Linked DNA regions of Homo sapiens. The protein of the gene in region 4 interacts with the protein of the main gene of each other region in a biochemical or structural test. Each region holds a gene or a part of one and is shown on either strand. Other genes may lie near its edges.

Region 1 (3,500 bases), on a different chromosome or scaffold from region 4:
CCACCAAGGAGATTATTAGTCCCATCTTCAAGGTGACGGAGCCGAGGAATAAGATATTCACACATTCCTAGTAACTGGTACAGCCCCATGCCAGACCCATGGGAGCTGTGTCCACGGCTCCCGCAGCCAGTGTAAAATGTTGACAGTAGAAGCCCAGGGTGTTAAGTCTGTTATATAAGGAGGAAACTGACCGGTCCTCCTGCCGTAGTTTCCTGTCATGGGAGCAGAGTGGCCACCACTGGTGGTATGGGGACGCCAGGCCTGCCACATCCTGCCCCTGTATCAGTTCCCATGTCTGGCACGGCACAGACCCTGTCCTGGGGACCTGCAGCAGAGGGCCTCCCACTGGAGCACCAAGTTGGGAGCTGAACAGGTGGAGATGTGCCAAGGGCCACGTGCCACTGGTTCCTACCTGGGGGTCCCACACTGGAGCTGCGTGGTGAAACCCCTTCTTCAGTGCAATCACCTACTTTCCCCTCTCCAAGTCACTTTTCCAGAAAGCTCCCTTTCTGCACCGTGTAAAGTGAGCCTAACCTCAGCCCCACAGCTGTGGTGTTTTGGAGCGGCCCTCATAAGCCTCGGTGGCCTCCTGGGGCTGGCGAGGCCTCCGGCTCCTGCAAACTCACCTTCTCGGAGTAGTGCTCCCCGGGGAGTGGGGGGTAGTCACACTGCTCGATCTTCTGGCACAGGGAGAAGAGATTCATCTTATCTCCATAGAAGGGGCTCTGGAGGGCTGCCATCTGCAAGGGACGGGAACAACGAAGATAAGCTTTCGGCCTCAAGGCTCAGAAGGACTAGAGAGGAGGAGGCTGCTCCAGATTGTTGGGGCATGGGTTCTCTCTGGTCCCGACCGCGGCGAGTCCAGCAGGACTTCTCCCCCGAATCACCGAGCATGCTGGGGTTCAACAGAGGAGCAGGCGCAACACTACCCTGATTCTGTCACTGGATTAAGTGGGCACGAGGGTTTCGGTGACAAAACTTTCAAGGCAATAAAGAAGGGCAGCTGGACGCTGCAAGCTAATTCCCACCTTGCTCCCACCTCAGCCCGGGGGACCCAGGCTCCATGTGGCAGGTTGCCGAGTGCATGGTCTTATTTCCATAAAACGCGATTTTTCCAAGATGCCTGCAGGGGCAGGTCTCTGTGCCCCACATGTTCAGAGAGCTTTCCTTACCTATGGACTGACATTTTGGGGTGGGGTGGGCCGGAGAAGGGTGAGGCATTTCACTGTGGCTGTTCTTGCCAGCCCCTCGCAGAGCTGCTGCCTGTGGAAGCCAGCTGCCGGTATCAGGGCAGGGGGAGCAGGGGGTTCAGGAGGGAGGGAGGCAGCCTCCTGCCCCTGGATAGAGGTGCGCAGCAGCATGTTGGAGGGAACCTTCAGGGTGGGAGGGAAGCGCCTGGCTCCACAGCCAGCCCTAGCTCTGTCCCGACCCCAGCTCTGCACTCGCTGTGTCTCTGGACTTCAGTTTCCTCATTTGTAAAATGTCCCCACCCACAGGCCTGTGGCGAGGCTTGGGCTGGCACACGGAGGAGGCACCACCAGCAGGGCCAAGACCGCCTTTGATGAGGTGAGGCCTGCGGCACCGGTTCTGCCCTGAAGGCCGGCCACAGCCACGGGGGAGCGAAAGGCCTGTGGGGCGGTGGCCTCCTGTGAGTTCTCAGCTGTCAGGGTGCTGCCAGGCTGCCCCACCACTCAGGGCACTCACAGGGGACTCCTCAAGGGGGTGTGCAGGGGCCACAGTGGCCCTGAGGCGGTGGCGCAGCAGCCCAGCGTGGCACCTGCTGGCCCCATTATGAACCCATAATGGGAAAGAGCTTCTCGTCACTCCAGCTCACTGTGGCTGCCTGCCTCCCGGACCGCCCCCCGAGGCCCAATGCCTCCGGCTAGTGAAGTGCCGTCGGGCGAGTGCCCTCCTGCTGTCTGGCCCCGGTTCCCCCCCGGAGGGGCCACCCTGCTCTGGCTTCTTGGCCAAGGGCTCCTGGGCGCCTACCGAGGGGCCCTGGGATACCTGGGGAACCGTCGCTTGTCCTCGCGCCCCAGAGGCTGAGCGGGGAGGAGTCCTTGGTAGCAGGGTTTGAGGGTGCCCGTCAGCTTGGGTTTCCTGGTCTTGCCCCATTCTGTGTTCGTCCATGAACAGGTCTGGTGACCCCAAGGGCCTGCCTCCTTCAGGAGGGCGTGGAGGAGCTTCAGAGCCTGGCACCATCCTTGGGTTTGCAGATGGCCTTTGGGGAAGCTGCTGAGTGCAGCCTGGAGACTGTGGGCTTTCCTCAGCCCCAGGTTCAGCACCCTCGGGACCAGGAGCCCAGGCCAGGCCAAGTGCCTTCAGGTGGGTGTTTAGGGACAGCATCACCTCTGTCTTCCGGCTGGCTGGGAGCTTGGGCCCCTCAGAGAAGGGCTGGGAACCCATGTGGAGCCTGAAACCCACCCTTGGAGGAGGGCTGCAGGGAGGGTCTGGCCAGGCAGGGGAAGTGTGAGGATGCAGAGGCCCTGCCCATTTTGGGGTCTGCTGACCTGACCAGGAGCGGGCTGGGAGCCTGCCAAATGCACCACCCAGGTGACGCATGTCCAGGAATTAAAATGAGACTCTCGGGTGCAAAGGGTTAATCGGGCATTTTCAAAGGACATCTGTTGCCATAACAGAGAGCAGCTGAGACTCCAGGACGGTCACCTGGGGTGATCTGGGTGCCCCCGAGTTGCAGCTGGAGGATTAAGGTGGATTTTCCTGGACTGTTACTGTGCAGCGTAGAAGGGACATTTTGAGTGTTGGTCCTGTGAACGCAGGCCCTGGTTTTTCATGTGGCTGACCCCGGAGAGGAATCAGCCGATCTTCAACTTCAGATCATGCCCATTTGATCTCAATTTTATAAACCTCGCTGCTGGGAACTCCAAAGGCCCCAGAACGCTGAGGGGAGCATTGAGCCCCCAAGCTGGCATCCACTTCCCATCATGTCTCTGCTCTTTCCAGCACTTTCTCCACATCGTTTCAGAAAAGCCTTTTGAATGGGGTCAGCAGTGAGCTATGCCAGAGGACCCCTCTCGGCCTTCCCCAGGAACAGGCCTCCTCCATCCGCCCCAGCCTGCCCCCACTCTGCTGCCGGCCATGGGCCTTCCACCCTCATCAGGGCAATGGGCTGTGAAGAAAGCTCTGGGCTGCGCGGATTACAACGATTACCCTGGACGGCGAGATCTCCTTCTACCAGTGACCACCCAGACTCTGACTGGTCGAAATAGAGAGGACTCACTGTCTGGGGCCTCGTTAGAACTGCCGAGGCCACGGCTCTCAGCGCTGCTCCTCAAATGCCAAGCCCTTCTCTCTGGTGTCATCAGGGTGACATATAGCCGAGGAAAAGGGGGTGGGTGGGCCCTGGCCCCCACCAGGAGGGCTCAGAGAAGCTGGTGTGTGATCTGAGATGTCAGAGGGACAAGGGGAATCTGACTCCTGCCTGTCAGGGCCTCAGACACCCATCTTGTCACCCAGTGTCTCTCGAGCACATCCCAGAC
Region 2 (3,500 bases), on a different chromosome or scaffold from region 4:
AGTGGCACGATCTCAGCTCACTGCAATCTCCGCCTCATGGGTTCAAACGATTCTCCTGCCTCAGCCTCCTGAGTAGCTGGGACTACAGACGCACACCACCACGCCCCCGCTAATTTTTGTATTTTTAGTAGAGACGGGGTTTCCCCACGTTGGCCAGGATGGTCTTGATCTCCTGACCTCGTGATCCACCCGCCTCGGCCTCCCAAAGTGCTGGGATTACAGGCGTGAGCCACCGTGCCAGCCGAACTAAATTGTGTTTCTAAATCTTATACCACATCAAATGCATTACAGACACAAGTATATTGGAATAATTTACTAAAAATGTCCATTATGTACTGAGTATTAGCTCATTTAAAAAAATAGAAAACTCAATAACGTAAAATGGAATATTCCTTTTTTATATAAATTTAAAGGCAGAAAATCTCAGGGAAAACAAACTTCTTTAACTCTACTCAGTTTTTCCTTGCTGTTCTATTCACATAGGTTTTTATATAAATATACATTTATACATTACACTCAACAAATTTCAAAAGCAATTTGATTTGTATAACCAAGGATGATTTGTATAACTCAAGATAAAATGCCAAGAGTGCAACCTCCGCTTTAATGAAAATGCTCTTCTTCTGAACAATGAAAATGCTTTTATTCTTGAAATCGGGGAAAACTCCCCTTCCACCACCACCACCCCACACACACACACAAAAAATCAGCTAGAAAATGATAAACATTCCAACAAATTAATTTACTTATGGTGATTATGTTCTTAGAAGAACAATATCCGGGGAACCCGGTTGGTCCTGTTAGTACCAACACACACTCTTGTCTCACCCACACAAGCGTTCTGCCCCTCCATTCTCCATTATAGGGTGGAGCATCACAAGAAGCACCACAATCTCACATCCTGTCTGTCATCTCCAACCCTGTCTCAACTTCATGGGTCTTATTTAAAAGTATGGAACTGTGACAATAGGGTCAACATATGCATGTTTCACAGCCTTCTCTATGCATAAAGTGCACACACAAATAGAGCTCTCCCACTCTTTAGACTCTGCTGCTGGAATAAAATCTCTGACTTTCCCAGCCTTGCTGTTTCTCCAAAATATTATCTCACACCTGCAACTCAATTCTAATATAAGGGCTACACAGTAAAGCGTGCAAGTACTGATTTTCAGCTGAACTTTGCCAGTGAAATGAGAAGATGTCACCTCATTTTCTAAATGCAGTTCCCAATCAGCCATAAGGTGATTTGTGAATCACTGGGTTCCCTTGAAGTTTTTCCTTTTGCCTGTGACTTACTGTCACTTCACAATTAGCATTCTACAGGTGCATGCAACAAGAAAGCATGCAATTCTTAAATATCTTAAACGTTTTAACAACTCTGGGGAAGTCGGGTTGGGAAATGACTGAAAATAAAGTTCTGGTTTTCAGTCTCACACATGAACTCTTTTCCACATTAACACAGGATTATCAAGAAATGGACTAAACTCTAATAACCTAATTTTTAGATGTCATAAAGAGATTAAACTTCCCAGGGGAATACGGAAACTCTAAGTTGCTACCTACTCTTTGGCTTTAATCACCATACGACGTAATACTGCAGAATAATATGCAGCTACTATTATTCTCTCTTTGCTAATAGAAATTTTGATCTAAAAAAGTTTTATATGAGGAAACAACTTAAGTGATACAGACTTATTTTCATATTTCTAAATCTTATATTTAAGTATTAAACCTAAACAACTAGCTAAATTTTCTCCAATTGTATATACCAAAAGGATTACTAATATTTTAACCAAAAGTGCCACAAACAGTCCCTTACTTTCCCTATGGAGTAAAATATCATGTGATTCTAAAGAAAAACTTTATAAACATTTATTTAATTACATGTAAACTTGGAAGTGAACAAAAATGAAACATTGGTTTCACTATAGCAAGTAAAAAGTAGTATTTCAAATATACTGATTTAAATTTGGGATTAATGCCTAAACTCAACAAAAAGGGCAAAAAATACTTGTTATAAAATCAACTTTTAATTTCTTCTGGAGTCTTCACAAAGTGAAGGCTCTCAATACTTTATTCTTAGATAAATTTTGCATTTAAAATAATAGTAATAATCATTATTTATAAAAAACAAGTTTTAAGCATATATCAAAGATTAATGGCTACATATCTAAAATGTTACAGTCACAGTTTAGTCCCAAAAGTATTTTCATTGATCTGAAATAAGCCATCATGAAACTATTATAACCAGGTTTCAAGTGTGAGGCTTTTGAAGCTGTATATAAAAAAAAAAAAAATTAGGACTTTGATGAGAAGCATTTAAATAAAAGCCCTTAGTTTACTGCTCCCGAATATAAATCCAACATCTTTAGGTGTAGAAAAATTAGAAACTGTGCAATTAATAGACTAGGAAGTCAAATATCATTGCCAGTAACTAACTGCTGTCTGAATTTCAAGGGAACTTATTGTATATTAAATTTTAAGAAAGTGAACTCACCTACCCTCTCACCTCAGCACTTTCTCAATTTTCCCATTACAATTAACAATATAACTTAGCAGTCAAGTCTTCCAGGCCAGTAACATCAGAATTTATTTTTAACTCTTGACTCCTTCACAAATATTCCACTTCAGTCCAGTATGAAGTTCTGCCAGTTCTTCATTCACACTGTCTCTCAAACCTGTTCCTTTCACCCCACTTTCACATTTTACTTTATTCCCTCATGATTCACAACATACCCTACTAGCTCCCTAAAAAGGCTCTAGCATCTCTCTACTATAATTCACTAATTCAACTGCAAAAATCATCTTACGTCTTATTCAGCAACCAACAATAAATCCAGATCTCTTCTGAATCTCAATCAAACTTGTACAGAACCCCTCTGCCCTCCATCAGCTAACTTTCTCTTATTTCTCAAATTCCATCTGTTCTTATGTTCTTATTTAGGCCCCTTTAATTCAGATTTGTCAACTTGATTATTGTCTCTCATGCAAAACTCACCATCATTGTTCCTTGGTACACTCCTTCCACCTAGACCTTTCATGCTTTTCTACCAGTTCAAGTTACCACCTCCTTTAACATCAGTCCTAATACACCTTGTCCGCAGGAAGTCTTTCCTCTCCCAACCATCAGTCTCACCCCTTTACTCTTTGCCACTCTGAACAAATGATTCAATTTGTATTTTACAATCTTGCAGTCATCACGCTATTGTTTTAATTTTTTTTTCCCCATAGCCTCCCTCTACAACTAAAGGATAAGCTTTTGAGAGCAAGGACTACAATTTCTTATGTCTGTTTTCAACAGGGGTTCCTTAGAATGCTAGCATCCTAACAAATGCTTAAAGACTCCCCTTTCTTTTAAATGCTTTTAAAGTCAAAGCTGTCAAAAACACATAATTAACACTAAACTCCAACTTTTAAAATTCTAAATTGACCTATATGGTAATCGGAATTAAACATTTTCATCTATATATTTTACAAGAGTTACTCCATCCTTAGTTAGT
Region 3 (3,500 bases), on a different chromosome or scaffold from region 4:
GACAGAGTCTCTCTGTCATCCAGGCTGGAGTGCAGTGACGCGATCTTAGCTCACTAAAACCTTTCCCTTCAGGCTCAAGCAGTACAATCCTCCCACCTCAGCCTCCCGGGTAGCTGGGACCACAGATGCACACCACCATGTCTGGCTACTTTTTTATATTTTTGGTAGAGACAGGGTCTTGCCATATTGCTGAGCTGGTCTCAAACTCCTGAGCTCAAGCAGTCCTCCCACCTTGGCCTCTCAAAGTGCTGGGATTACAGGCATGAACCCACCATGTCTGGCCTTGTCTTATATTTTATTTTATATTTATTTATTTATTTCAAGATGGAGTTTTACTCTTGTCATCCAGGCTGGAGTACAATGGCGCAATCTCGGCTCACTGCAACCTCTGCCTCCCAGGTTCAAGCAATTCTCCTGTCTCAGCCTCCCAGGTAGCTGGGATTACAGGCGCCCGCCACCACGCCTGGCTAATTTTTAGTAGAGACGGGGTTTCACCATGTTGGCCAAGCTAGTTTTCAACTCCTGACCTCAGGTGATCCACCTGCCTCAGCCTCCCAAAATGCTGGTATTACAGGTGTGAGCCACCGTGCTTGGCCCTTGTCTTATATTTTAAAAAGATGACTTTGGGTGCCGTGTGGAGGGTAGACTGTAGGGACAAGGATGGAGGCTCATGCCTGTAATCCTAACACTTGAGAGGCTGAGGCGGGAGGATCACTTGAGCCCAGGAATTCAAGACCAGCCTGAGCAACATAGGGAGATCCTGTCTCCACAAAAAAAATAAACACTTAGCCAGGTGTGGTGGCACACACGTTAGTCCCAGCTACTTGGCAGGCTGAGGTGGGAGGATTGCTTGAACCCAGGAGTTTGAGGCTGCAGTGAGCCATGATCACACCACCGCACTCTAGCCTGGGCAACAAAGCAAGACCTTGTCTCAAAAAGAAATAGTCACTGGGCACGGCGTCTCACACCTGTAATCCAAGCACTTTGGGAGGCTGAGGTGGGAGGATTGCTTGAGCCTGGGATTTCAGGACCAGCCTGGGCAACGTAAGGAGATCTTGTCTCTCCAAAAACATTGAAAAATTAGCTAGGTGTGGTGGTGTGTGCCTATAGTCCCAGCTACTTGAGAGGCTGAGGTAGGAGGATCACTTGGGCCCAGGAGGTCAAGGCTGCAGTGAGCCGTGATTGCACCACTGCACTCCAGCCTGAGTGACAGCAATACCCTGTCTCAAAAAAATATACCATAGAGCTTGGGCTTTAGGGAAAAAAAAAAAAAAAAAAAAGTGGAGGTGATTTGATCAATTAGGAGCTCTGAAAGGACCCAAGTGAGAAATGACAGTGACTGGATCTGCGGTGGAGAGGGGCAGCATGGTTTCCCACATAAGATTCTCACATCTGTTCTTACCTGCTACCTACCCCTCTTGGAAATAGCAGTGTCCTGTAGTGGCCTGAGGCACATCAGTTATTCAGTCCCCATCCTCTTCCCTCTTGCCTACTTCAGGACCAGTTGCTCTTCTGTGATGACTGCGATCGTGGCTACCACATGTACTGTCTCACCCCGTCCATGTCTGAGCCCCCTGAAGGTAAGTTGCCCAGATCTTTTACTCAGAACAATTACTTTATTAGTTACTTGGAAAATACTGAGTTCTATGTTCTTTATGTTATCACTTACATATTCTTCCAAATTAGGGAGTAAAGCACCTTGCCTTGGCTCAGTTTAGAATGCCTTCCTAACATTTCAACTTAAAGGGTTTAGTGTTTGCACATTATCAGCTACATTTACAACAGAAAATCAACAGCCCAGAAGAAAGCAGATGCTGAGCCGAGATCAGGCACCCAGAAGGAATGATTTATTTTCTTCCAACCAGTCCAGAAAACTCAAGTGGTAGATTATCTGATGTGAAACTTCTGCAGTCAACTCTTGAAATTTGATAGATTTGAGCATTTATTTCCTATCCCTTCCCCTTCTGAACTGGGAAGGGACTTGACTTTGGAGCCTGAATGGGTCAGTCTGCTTCTCCGATAACTTACTGTAATAATGGTCCAAATTTATTAAAGCTATTCACTGAAACCAGTGGTGGCACCAAGAATTGGTTGCATCTCCACAAGTCCCCTTCCAGCTGGATTTCTGTACATAAACACCTCCTGTACAGAAATTGAGTAGCAGCTGGGCGCGGTGGCTCAAGCCTGTAATCCCAGCACTTTGGGAGGCCGAGGTGGGCGGATCACGAGGTCAGGACATGGAGACCATCCTGGCTAACACGGTGAAACCCCGTCTCTACTAAAAATACAAAAAAATTAGCCGGCTGTGGTGGCGGGCGCCTGTAGTCCCAGCTACTCAGGAGGCTGAGGCAGGAGAATGGCGTGAACCCGGGAAGCGGAGCTTGCAGTGAACCGAGATCGCACCACTGCACTCCAGCCTGGGCGACAGAGCGAGACTCCATCTCAAAGAAAAAAAAAAAAAAGCCAACAGAAATTCAGTAGCTTACTCAGAACACAAATGCCCAGGAGCTGTTACTGTGCACAAAGGATGTGGGCCAGCATTACAGGCAAGAGAAAGTGTTTCATTGTGTGATGTAAGCTGACTTGTAACATATCGGTCAAACTGCTGTCACCCCTCTAGAGAATGAGGCCCCTGACAATGTCTAAGAGTCCTTTAGCAGCTGTAGGGGAGTACTCAGCTTCTGTCAGGCCCAGTTTATGAATCTGCTTTGGGGAGAAGTCGCATGTTTATGTTTTGTTTTGTTTTGTTTTTTTAAACCATCAAACAGATGATCTATGTTACAGAATGGCTTTCCTATTAAAGTTCTGTGGGACATCGAGGTAGTGGAGAGCTGCAGGCCCGAGTGTCCTCACTGTAGTGTTAAGGCAGCTGAGGGGCAACCCCTAGAAGTATCAGATGTTCTAGGTCAGGGTCAGCAAGCTACAAGCTAAAACCTATGGACCACATCCAGCCACAGCCAGCTTAAATAGCTTGCAAGCTGTTTTGTTTTCTTTTCTTTTCTCTTTTTCTTTTTCTTTCTTTCTTTTTTTTTTTTTTTTTTGAGACAGTGTCTTGTTCTGTTGCCCATGTTGGAGTGGAGTGGCATGATCTCAGCTCACTGCAACCTCTGCTTCCCCGGGCTCAGGTAATCTGGTAATCCTCCCACCTCAGCCTCCTGAGTACCTGGGACTACAGGCATGCCACCACACCCGGCTAATTTTTGTATTTTTAGTAGAGACGGGGTTTTGCCATGGTGCCCAGGCTGGTCTCGAACTCCTGGGCTCAAGTGATCCACCCACCTCAGCTTCCCAAAGTGCTGGGATTACAGGTGTGAACCACTGCATCTAGCCTGAAGAAAATCCCCTTAAAAATATAAAAACTGGCTGTGCACTGTGGCTCGCATCTGTAATCCCAGCACTTTGGGATCTCTTGAGCCCAGGGGTTCAAGACCAGCCTGGGCAGCATGGCAAAACCCCATCTTTACTAAAAATAGAGAAATTAGCTGGGCGTGGTGCTGTGC
Region 4 (3,500 bases):
GACTAACATAGTAAAACCCCGTCTCTGCTAAAAATACAAAAAAAAAAAAAAAAAAAAAAAGCCGGGTGTGGTGGTGTGCACCTGTAATCTCAGCTACTCGGGAGGCTGAGACAGGAGAATCACTTGAACCCAGGAGGCAGAGGTTGCAGTGAGCCAAGATTGTGCCACTGCACCCTAGCCTGGGTGACAGAGCAAGACTCCGTCTCAAAAAAATAAAAATAAATAAAATAAAATAAAATAAAATATTAAATAAAAGTATCTTAGCCCAACAAGGTAGGCATTATTATTGTGCCCATTTTACAGATGAAGAAGCCAAGGCACAAAAAGGTGAAGTAATAGGCTTATGGCCCCACAACTAGCAAGTTGCAGAGCCAGGATTTGAACAGAGGCAGTGAACCCAGAGCTCCAGCCACAGCCGCCCAGGACTCAGTCTCCCCCTACAGCCCGGGAGCCTCTGGAGGGTCCAAAGTCTAACTCTGTCTTTGGGTCCCCAGGTTCATCCAGCACAGATGCCTAAGAAGGATTTTCCCAGTTCAAGTGACTTGAGGTTGGCCCTGCCACTGACCTAGAGCGTGTCCCTTCCTCTCTGCCAGCCTCAGTATCCCCATCTGCCAAATTGGGGGGACCTTGGCACCCTACTGGCTTCACAGATCCCATGAGATAAGGGGTGCAGGAAAACTACCTTTCAAGGGGCAAAGGTCTGGCTGCCAGGAGCCACTCCCTGAGAACAGAGGAGGACAGATCTAGCAGCGGAACAGGTTCGCGTCTATAAATCCCCAGCCAGAGACCAGCGCAGGCAGCCCTGGGTGGGACACCTGGCTGCAGCTGCCTTCCGTTGCTGTGTGATTCTAAGGCTCACTGGCGGCCTCTGGGCTTCCCCTTGTCCTGTCTATGGAATGACGGGAGGTCGGTTTCGATTCCTCCACGATTCTGTGAAGGGCTGAGCTTTCCTGGGGAGGTGAAAAGGGGCTTCCCTGAGGACCCAGCATTACTGTACCTCCTCACTTAGGAAGCAGGGGTGAATCTGGGATTTTGGGTGGTCACTGTGGGAGGACAGGGCTGGGGTACAGAGCAAGAGGCTGCCTGGGTTCAGATCAGCCTCTTTGCATCTTTTTGTTGTTGTTGTTGTTTGTTTTTGAGACAGTCTCGCTCTGTTGTCCAGGCTGGAGTGCAGTGACGCAATCTCAGCTCACTGCAACCTCTGCCTCCTGAGTTCAAGCGATTCTCCTGCCTCAGCCTCCCGAGTAGCTGGGATTACAGGTGCCCACCACGATACCCAGCTAATTTTTGTATTTTTAGTAGAGACGGGGTTTCGCCATGTTGGCCAGGCTGGTCTCGAACTCCTGACCTCAAGTGATCTGCCCACCTCAGCCTCCCAAAGTGCTGGGATTACAGGCGTGAGCCACCAGGCCTGGCCACCTCTTTGTATCTTTAAACACCAGCCAGTGACCTCCAGGACCCTGGGGTGGACTTCAGGGAGGGAACACACCCCAATTTGTTTGGAAATTTGGGCATCCACTTTTTCCTGGTGCTAAGACCCCTTTCTAATGGGTTCCCAAAAAGACTTCATAATCCCTGGTCTAAATGTTTTTCGGGAGGCATTTGGCTTAGTTGGAGGATACCCTGATGCTGGGACCCCAACATTAGAGGTTGAAAGGATGGTAGCCCAGAGGAGAAGATGAGGTTTGGGGTTTAGTGCCCCAGCAAGTCAGAGCCCAGGGTTTCCCAGGACGGAGGAAGACGGAAGGGTCACAGGAGGGACAGGGTTGGGGAATCTGTCTTAAAAGATGAAAAGTTGTGACCACTTTCTGGACCTTACCTTTCTCTTTCTCTTTCTCTTCCTTCCACAGATGAATTGGGTGAGTATCACAGGGCAGGTTTGCGGGGAGGCTGAGGGACCCAAGTGCCTACAGAAGGGGGTCTTGGCCTTCCTTGTTCAGTGGGGGTGGGGGAGAGGTGTCACTGTGTGACTTCCAGGACTGTGGAGGGATTTGAACGAAGTCATGCTCCTAAGGTACTTAGCAGTGCTTGACACTTGGAAAACACTCAGCACGCCGGGGGCTGTGTGACTCACACCTGTAATCCTGGCACTTTGGGAGGCAGAGGCAGGAGGACTGCTTGAGGCCAGGAGTTCAGGACTAGCCTGGGTAACATAGTGAGACCCCCATCTCTACACAAAATTTTTAAAAATTAGCCGGGCATGGTGGTGCGCACCTGTAGTCCCAGCTGCTCAGGAGGCTGAAGTGGGAGGATCACCTGAGCCTGGGAGGTTGCCTTGGAAGCCGAGGCTGCAGTGAGCTATGATTGCACCACTGCACTGCAGCCTGGGCGGCAGAGCAAGACCGTGTCTCAAAAAGAAAACCAATTAAAATAAAATAATGTTATTAATCCCCTAGTGAGTACAGACAGACACTGTTTTAGGCCCTGGGGATTTAGCCATGAACAAAACCAAGTCCCTGCCCTCGCAGAGCTGATAGCCCGGTGTGGGAGACAGAGGAAAATGAACAGATGAGCAAGATAATGTTAGCCTGGGCTGAGAGCTGTGAAAGAAATAAACAGGACGAGGGAGAGATGGCCTGGAGAAGACACATTAGGTTAGGCTTTTCTGAAGAGATAACATACGAGCTGAGACCAGGAGGAGAAGCAGCCAGCATGGGTTGAATGGGGGACCGTGTGGAACAGGCAGTTGGAGGAGCAAGTTCTTTCTTATTTATTTATTTAAGTTATTTTTTGAGACAGAGTCTCGCTCTGTCGCCCAGGCTGGAGTGCAGTGGTGCTGTCTCAGCTCACTGCAACCTCCACCTCCCAGGTTCAAGCAATTCTCCTGCCTCAGCCTCCCGAGTAGCTGGGAGTACAGGCATGCACCAACATACCTGGCTCATTTTTGTATTTATTTATCTATTTATTTAGAGATGGAATTTCGCTCTTGTTGCCCAGGCTGGAGTGCAATGGCATGATCTTGGCTCACTGCAACCTCCACCTCCCAGGTTTAAGTGATTCTCCTGCCTCTGCCTCCCGAGTAGCTGGAACTGCAGGCACACATCACCATGCCCAATTTTTATATTTTTAGTGGAGATGGGGTTTCACCATGTTCGCCAGGCAGGTCTCAAACTCCTGACCTCAGGTGATCCGCCTGCCTCGGCCTCCCAAAGTGCTGGGATTACAGGCGTGAGCCACCATGCCCAGCCTATTTATTTATTTATTATTATTATTTTTTGAGATGGAGTCTTGCTCTGTTGCGCAGGATGGAGTGCAGTGACGCAATCTCGGCTCACTGCAACCTCCGCCTGACGGTTTCAAGCGATTCTCCTGCCTCAGCCTCCTGAGTTGCTGGGACTACAGGCACGTGCCACCATGCCTGGCTAATTTTTTGTATTTTTAGTAGAGACAGGGTTTCACTGTGTTAGCCAGGATGGTCTCGATCTCCTGACCTCATGATCCGCCCGCCTCGGCCTCCCGAAATGCTGGGATTACAGGCATGAGCCACCGCGCCCAGCCTA

The links. The genes of interacting proteins can lie anywhere in the genome.
Region 1: the proteins of RELB (region 4) and NEK6 form a complex in vitro, tested with the Homo sapiens proteins (one study listed by BioGRID).
Region 2: of the proteins of RELB (region 4) and GSK3B, one has a biochemical effect on the other in vitro, tested with the Homo sapiens proteins (one study listed by BioGRID and IntAct).
Region 3: the proteins of RELB (region 4) and DPF2 form a complex in vitro, tested with the Homo sapiens proteins (one study listed by BioGRID).

What each region holds. Positions count from the first base shown.
Region 1 is NC_000009.12:124,344,949-124,348,448, reverse strand, and holds part of NEK6 (serine/threonine-protein kinase Nek6), read right to left. Parts: exon of another isoform or gene 747-3,500; intron 741-746; coding exon 627-740; intron 1-626. UniProt on the Homo sapiens protein: Protein kinase which plays an important role in mitotic cell cycle progression. Required for chromosome segregation at metaphase-anaphase transition, robust mitotic spindle formation and cytokinesis.
Region 2 is NC_000003.12:120,087,948-120,091,447, forward strand, and holds part of GSK3B (glycogen synthase kinase-3 beta), read right to left. Parts: intron 1-3,500. UniProt on the Homo sapiens protein: Constitutively active protein kinase that acts as a negative regulator in the hormonal control of glucose homeostasis, Wnt signaling and regulation of transcription factors and microtubules, by phosphorylating and inactivating glycogen synthase (GYS1 or GYS2), EIF2B, CTNNB1/beta-catenin, APC, AXIN1, DPYSL2/CRMP2, JUN, NFATC1/NFATC, MAPT/TAU and MACF1.
Region 3 is NC_000011.10:65,347,352-65,350,851, forward strand, and holds part of DPF2 (zinc finger protein ubi-d4), read left to right. Parts: intron 1-1,498; coding exon 1,499-1,580; intron 1,581-3,500. UniProt on the Homo sapiens protein: Plays an active role in transcriptional regulation by binding modified histones H3 and H4. Is a negative regulator of myeloid differentiation of hematopoietic progenitor cells. Might also have a role in the development and maturation of lymphoid cells.
Region 4 is NC_000019.10:45,007,964-45,011,463, forward strand, and holds part of RELB (transcription factor RelB), read left to right. Parts: intron 1-494; exon of another isoform or gene 495-547; intron 548-1,850; coding exon 1,851-1,859; intron 1,860-3,500.